2 linked regions of the Homo sapiens genome follow. The protein of the gene in region 1 purifies or fractionates together with the protein of each later gene. This does not show direct contact. Each region holds a gene or a part of one and is shown in the gene's direction. Other genes may lie near its edges. The genes, in order: UBR3 and CYB5D2.

Region 1 (3,824 bases):
GTAAGAGGGGTATAATTGTAGAACCAAGGCAGGGAAAAAAGTGATGAGCACACCCAGAGTTTGTCTTCATATGAGCCATAGGTTAAAATCAAGCCTACATTTTAGATGAATGATTATTGTATGTATGCTGATGGAAAATAAGAATTTTTCATTTTAAAATATTTAATCTTTTCATATAATTAGGTGATAATTATTGTAGAGGCAGTGTAGTAGACATTTGATTAATTTATTAATTTATGCTAATGCAGAATTTTTGCCAGTTATGTAAGTACACCACCATTTGACCTGTATTCCCCCTTGTGTCCCTGCTCCACTCTTGTGTTCCTAACCCTGATCCTGACCCTAGGTCAACCAGATTCTCTTTCTCAGGAATGTTAAATCTGTATAGCGAGACTTAGCAGGGTAAATGGTGACAGGAGCTGTATAGTCCAACAGTACTACCCTTGAAAAACTGTCTGTGAATTACTACTTCTGAATTTTTTTATCAGTTAAGATTCTTTGTTTGGGAACAACAAAATCCAGTTCTGATTTAAAATAAGGAAAACCAAAGCAAACTATGACAGAAAAAAAAAAAAAAACAGGATTCATTGGAAGCATACTTGGTAACCTGCAGAATTGAAGAGCTTAACTGTCATCGCTTGGGAAGAAGAGAAACCACAAATATCTCTGCTCTGTTTTCTCTGAAGTGCTGCCACCAGATAACTAAGCCTCAACCATTTTCCTTCCTTTAATTTGCATGCTCAAGGTTCAGATTCCTGGGAGAGAGAATCTGGTTGGCCTAACTGTTGTAATACATATACCCCAGTGGTGGGGCAGGATCTTGTGTTGGGGACAGCCCCATCAGAACTGTACGGAGCAAGAAAAGGGGTTATTTTCTAAAAGAACTTATAATGTTATTAATATAAGAAAGCAGCAAAGGATGCTAGGAGGATTTAAAAAACAAACTAGTGGCCCACTACTTTCACATCTTACCTGCCTGGCTCATACACACCCTTCTTCTCATTCACAGTTTCACTTCTGCTGTTGAAAATGATGTAACCATTTTACTTATGACTGCAAATGCATCTGTGACTTTCCCAAATAAGCAACCTGATGTCACATATAGTCCTTACATCATCAGGCCTCTCTGCATCCAGTAGCTCTGAGAGATGTCCATTGTTCCTGTCATTTGTACTCACACCCAGATGGCCTGGAAAATTTTAATTAGTACCTGCTCACCCTGAATTCAATAGTAAGAGAATGAAAATGTTGCAAAGATATATGATACAGTAAGCAAGATTTGCAAGTAGTCATAAAGCTGCAGCTAATATACAGTCAAATATATATGACTTTCTTCTTTTACCATCCGTGATCCAGCACACCTCAACGGATGATTGGATTTGTTTGAGCAAGGATGTGATACCAAACTTTATTCTGAAAGGGCTGAGCTTCTGGTGATTGGTCCTGTCTTTGTTTCTATAAGGCTGTAATCATTCTGTGTTAAATTTCTGCCTTTCAAGCTTGGTCTATGGTAGGGGTGGTGGTAGGGGTTTTTAAGTTCCAAAATATTGCTCTACCAATTGTATGGCAATATTTTTATTCTTCTTGATAGTCATGGTCAATCCCTCCAGGCAATGCGATAAGCCACCCTTGTGATGTTATAAACCGTACTAGAGGTTAGACAGTACATAGCTTGTAAATCCGCAGAAGAGTCCGGAATAGCAGTGAAGCAGAAATTTAAGACCGAATTTTTTTTTCCATTTTAATGTTTACAATTTAATAAATCTCTTGATTGCAGACATGTAAGGCTGTTTGGTAGTATTCAGAAACATCACAGTAATGGCAGTTTTTTCAGTTGGTGTGTAGTCTTCAATAAATATCTATGAAAGTGCTGTCAGACCAGTAAGACTGCATTTATACATCCATCATTTTCAGGATTGTTGGTAACCACAGCCTATTTTCCCCAAATAACCTTGCCTCCTTGTGTCACAAGGCCCAACTCACATTCACCTCAGTAACAGTACCTTTGGTAATAACATCCAAAGTTATATACATTGGGAATGAGGGACTCTTCTTTACACCAAGTATTGTTAGGCAAAAGGTGGCTTTCAGTTCAGGATGTGTTACATGGGCTTTCTTGAAACGCAAGCCCATTGGCCTGATGAATCTTCCATAGATAAGTAGTTTTCTTGTAAAGCCATCTCCAACAAAGCAGACTTTAGTAACCATCCTCCTCTATGCCTGCGTCTTTCTCTTTCCTGTTGGAATAACTTTGAGACAGAGTCTCACTCTGTTGCCCAGGCTTGAGTGCAGTAGAGCGATCTTGGCTTACTGCAACCTCAGCCTCCTGGGTTCAAGTGATTTTCCTGCCTCAGCCTCCTGAGTAGCTGGGATTACAGGCGCCTGCCACTATGCCCAGCTAATTTTTGTATTTTTAGTAAAGACAGGGTTTCACCATGTTGCCCAGGCTGGTCTTGAACTCCTGACCTCAAATGATCTGCCTACCTTGGCCTCCCAAAGTTCTGGGATTACAGGCATGAGCCACTGCACCTGGCTCTGTTCAAATAACTCTTAACACTTCTGTATCTCCCTGGGCAAGTTACATTTAGACAGAGGGACTTTCCATTTTCCTGCTTTCTCTTTTCATTTCGGCTTAATCATACTGGGAAGTACGTTAGCTTGAGGTTGTCCCTCTCTGTCCAGCAGATAGGCAGGTACTGCTCCCTGTGGAGTCTTTCTTTTGTCTGGTGTTTCTCTTTTCATGCATCTTGATGGTCTTTTTCATTTGTATTTTCTCAGCATGGTGCTGTTTAAGATAAAGCTTAGCCTTCAGACCAATCATTTTCTTTGACTTCTTTGAATGTTCATAAGCCTCTCAACTTTCCTTCTTTCCCTTTTTCTCATGGTAATCCAAATGATATCCATGGCATTTACAGTGTAATTCAATATATTTGATCTGTGGCATGGCACAGGCGCAGCCCCTGGGGTGCGAAAATGCTCTCAATTTTTGGGTCTCAGAGACCCACGAGTGAACTCCACACAGGCCGCAACAGGAAAGGCAAGACCGAATTTTAGGTGTAATCATGAGAGGTGTTACAGCTGTTAAATACTTTCCACCTCTTGTTTCCCATACATATGCATTCCAATTGTGAAAAAGGTCACCCATATATACTGGTTGCTGTTTAGAGCATACACATTCTGTAGGTGATTTCTTCCAGCTGGTGCCATCTAAAAGTTTGTAAATTTCATGAATTTCATAATTTTTGTGGCACTGAAAAAATCAGTTTTGTAGTTCATGATTTAAAATACCACAGCTTTTTTCAGATGATTGAATATATGTTAAGATCAGTGAATTCCATGGACATCCACCTGTTGCCTTACATCTCTCTTCATGAGGGAAATTATTGGAGGTAATGTGCTATGGGCTACTGGATAACATGCAGCCTAACCTATAATAAGTGTCAAGTTCAGTGAGGACAAATTGTTATCCCTTCCCTTTAATGGAAGGGTTCCACTGTAATCAACTCATTACAGAATGCCATCCTTGGAGTCCAGGGTTGGGTGCTGAGTATTGGCAAATGATGTATTGTATACTGTTCTTATCATTGCTTCCATGGACACTTAATCCATGAACTTGTTGATGAGGAACAAGCTAGCTTAGTTACTCCACTGATTTAGGTGGATTATGGCTGCATGTAGGTAATGTGAGATGATCTCCATTTAAATTGACTATTACTTACAGTTTCTTAAGATAATAGACTCACTCTACATTTTATCTTTTTTAAGTGTGAATGGAGTAGCATCTAGAAAAATTTAGTGCTGCTGCCAGTATTTTTATACAGCTG
Region 2 (2,825 bases), on another chromosome or scaffold:
CTGTGACACAGGCCTGAATGCAGGTAGCCTCAGAGAGCACTGGTCTCTGAGACTCCAGGAGGAGGAGACTCCAGGAGGCCTGCGTGCGTTCAGATGCTTGACTTTGCTTCCTTGGGCCCTGCCTCCTTTTCCCTCCCCACAGCCTTCCCCTGTGTCTCCTGAACCTCTTCTTGCTTTCATGACTGAGTAGTTCAGGCTCTGCCTTCCCCACAAAACCCTTCCAGGGCCACCCTAGTGAACTGCGGGGCCCTATCCCTGTGCCTCAGCTCAGTTTGTTGTCTTCTGTTCACCTGTGTGTGTCCCATTAGACTGAGAGGAACAAGTGCCGAAGGCAGGGACAAGGTGTGGAGTACAGATCCCCAATGATGGGATGGAGGCTGGGTAGAAGAGGGAGGCGTTTGGGTGACAGCCTTGTTCTTGGTAAGCTAGAAGTAGGATGTTTTCTCGCTGGGGGCAGTTTCTCTGACAGCAGGCACCGGAAGCTGTCTGAGGCGTCAGTTCCAAGAACCTCAGTTTCTTTCTTGCAAGGCCTCTGAGTCCATCAGAGACTGAGCCCAGTGCCCTGAGGTGGGCAAGGCCCCTGCCCAAGATAGGAGGGTGCTCAGGTTGTTGGGCCACAGCTGAATCCTCCGTGTCTGAAGCCTAGTGCCATCAAGGACTGGACCTGTGGGGCACAGGACAGCTTGCAGCTACACTCTATGCCAAGGGCTTCCCAGAGAAGGCCGACCCAGGTGGCCAAGGGCCAGGGCCCAATTGCCCACCCCCAGCCAAGTGCCCCAGAGAAGAAGGTGAAGACCCTGACCTGCGCTGGGTTGTAGTGGGGAAGGAAGAGGACAGTCGCACCCAGACACTGCTTCTGAGAAGCTCACAGGCCAGCAGGGGAAGCCCTTTCACAGCTGTTGCCACCAGTGCAGGAACGTGGTGCTGCCTCCTAAGAAGGGGCAGGGCAGGGGCTGGGGAGCACAGTGAAAGGAACCATGGACTGTGCCCTTGGCCTGGGGAAGGTGGTGGTGGCCCTGCAGGGGAAGCTGGAGGATGTTAGGAGAGAGCATGAAGGCTCAGGGGCTGAGCGCTGTAGCCTGCTGCCTTGGGAAACACTCTGGTAGGCTTCTACTTTTCAGAAGGCCTGGCTCTCTGCTTCCTGCTCTCCCCTTCCCAGAGACTCATGAGTTCTCACATTTAAGAAGTCCTCTTTCCGTCTATCCTTAGTGGAGGTGTGAGCAGAGACTGGATTGGCGTCCCCAGGAAGCTGTATAAGCCAGGTGCTAAGGAGCCCCGCTGCGTGTGTGTGAGAACCACCGGCCCCCCTAGTGGCCAGATGCCGGACAACCCTCCACACAGAAATCGTGGGGACCTGGACCACCCAAACTTGGCAGAGTACACAGGCTGCCCACCGCTAGCCATCACATGCTCCTTTCCACTCTAAGCCGTAGCCTCTTCTGTTAATAACACACAGAGAGCTCTGCCAAGCACCTGAGTAGGCCCTTGACACTTGTGTGCCCTGGGATGCCTCCTGGCGCGAATCAGGAGGGTCTGGAAGGACTCTGGCTATATTCTGCAAATGTGGCTCATGCCCCTTACCGTGGCTCGGCGTTGTGGTGCCTGAGGGACAGCCGGCCACCTGCCCAGTACTGGTCAGCTTTTCAACACTATTCCCTTTGACCTACTGGCCATCTTCCTCACAGCCCTCAGATATCAACGGGCACAAATAAGACCAACTCAATTTCCACTTGAATTTACAACCAAAAGCCTGCTGAGTTGATTACAGCTGGGCCAATACAGTACGAGGCAATAACAAATTAGTGTGGGTTGATTCTGGAATTGGAAAAGCTTTTGCTTGTATGGATACAGCAAATCCAGATGTCTCTGAACAAAGCAACAATTTAAAGCAACGACATTTTCTGTCCTTTAAGCACTTAAAATCAGGTGTGGTGTGTTTTCAAAGGCAGAAGTCTGCATTTTGAGCAAAAGGTGGCTTCCCAGCTCTAACAAGGTAACTGGTTAGCATGACATTAAAGCTTGGGCAAGGCTTCAAACTTAAGGTGGCTGGGCTTGCTGCTTGTCCAGTGGTTTGTATGTCCAGCGTCATCTGGCAATGTCATACCTGTTACCTCTTGACTACTTGTGAAGGTAGATGGGGGCAAGGAGTGTTCCTACTTCAGACAGAGAAGTGGGACCAGCACTACCACAGACAGCGCCACGGCCTCTGTGCATCGCCTCATCAGAGCTTCCACCCAGCTCCCTTTGCCGCTCAGTCTCACCCTCAACATCCACCAGCTTCCTCCCTCTCTGTCACTGTCTCCTTTTTCTCCATCATTCATTTCACTAAATCGCTTTCCAGATTCACAGACTAGAAAATGGAGGCTGCCTCCCCTTCACTGGCAGACCCGTACTCACTGCCCCTGTCCCCTTCACTGGCAGACCCGTGCTCACTGCCCCTGTCCCCTCACTGGCAGACCCGTGCTCACTGCCCCTGTCCCCTCACTGGCAGACCCGGGCTTATTGCCCCTATGGCCACAGCTGTTCCTTACACTTGGGCTCTGGCTCATGGCTCCTTTTGCCTGCCCCCGCCATCCTCCTCACCTGCCCCTCTTGTACCTTTAACCTCTCCCCGTCTCCTGGATCTTCCCCCAGGTATGCATCAAACAGCTCACTTCTCTCACATCATAAACATTCCCTCAACTCCAGTTTTGGCTTATACTCACTAGCTTTGCTTTTCAGCTCCATTTGCTCTAAAAATCAGGAGAAATTCTGCATTGGCACATTCCGTGGTCACATCCAGTTCTTACCTAGGCTTTGTCACTCTGGATACTGTGGACCGTGGG

Evidence for each region.
Region 2: the proteins of UBR3 (region 1) and CYB5D2 purify together in Homo sapiens (co-immunoprecipitation; one large-scale study listed by IntAct). This does not show direct contact.

Annotation. Positions count from the first base shown.
Region 1 is NC_000002.12:170,075,351-170,079,174, forward strand, and holds part of UBR3 (E3 ubiquitin-protein ligase UBR3), read left to right. Parts: intron 1-2,117; exon of another isoform or gene 2,118-2,253; intron 2,254-2,551; exon of another isoform or gene 2,552-3,037; intron 3,038-3,824. UniProt on the Homo sapiens protein: E3 ubiquitin-protein ligase which is a component of the N-end rule pathway. Does not bind to proteins bearing specific N-terminal residues that are destabilizing according to the N-end rule, leading to their ubiquitination and subsequent degradation.
Region 2 is NC_000017.11:4,155,657-4,158,481, forward strand, and holds the end of CYB5D2 (neuferricin isoform 1 precursor), read left to right. Parts: intron 1-290; exon of another isoform or gene 291-537; intron 538-1,209; coding exon 1,210-1,426; 3' UTR 1,427-2,041; downstream 2,042-2,825. UniProt on the Homo sapiens protein: Heme-binding protein which promotes neuronal but not astrocyte differentiation.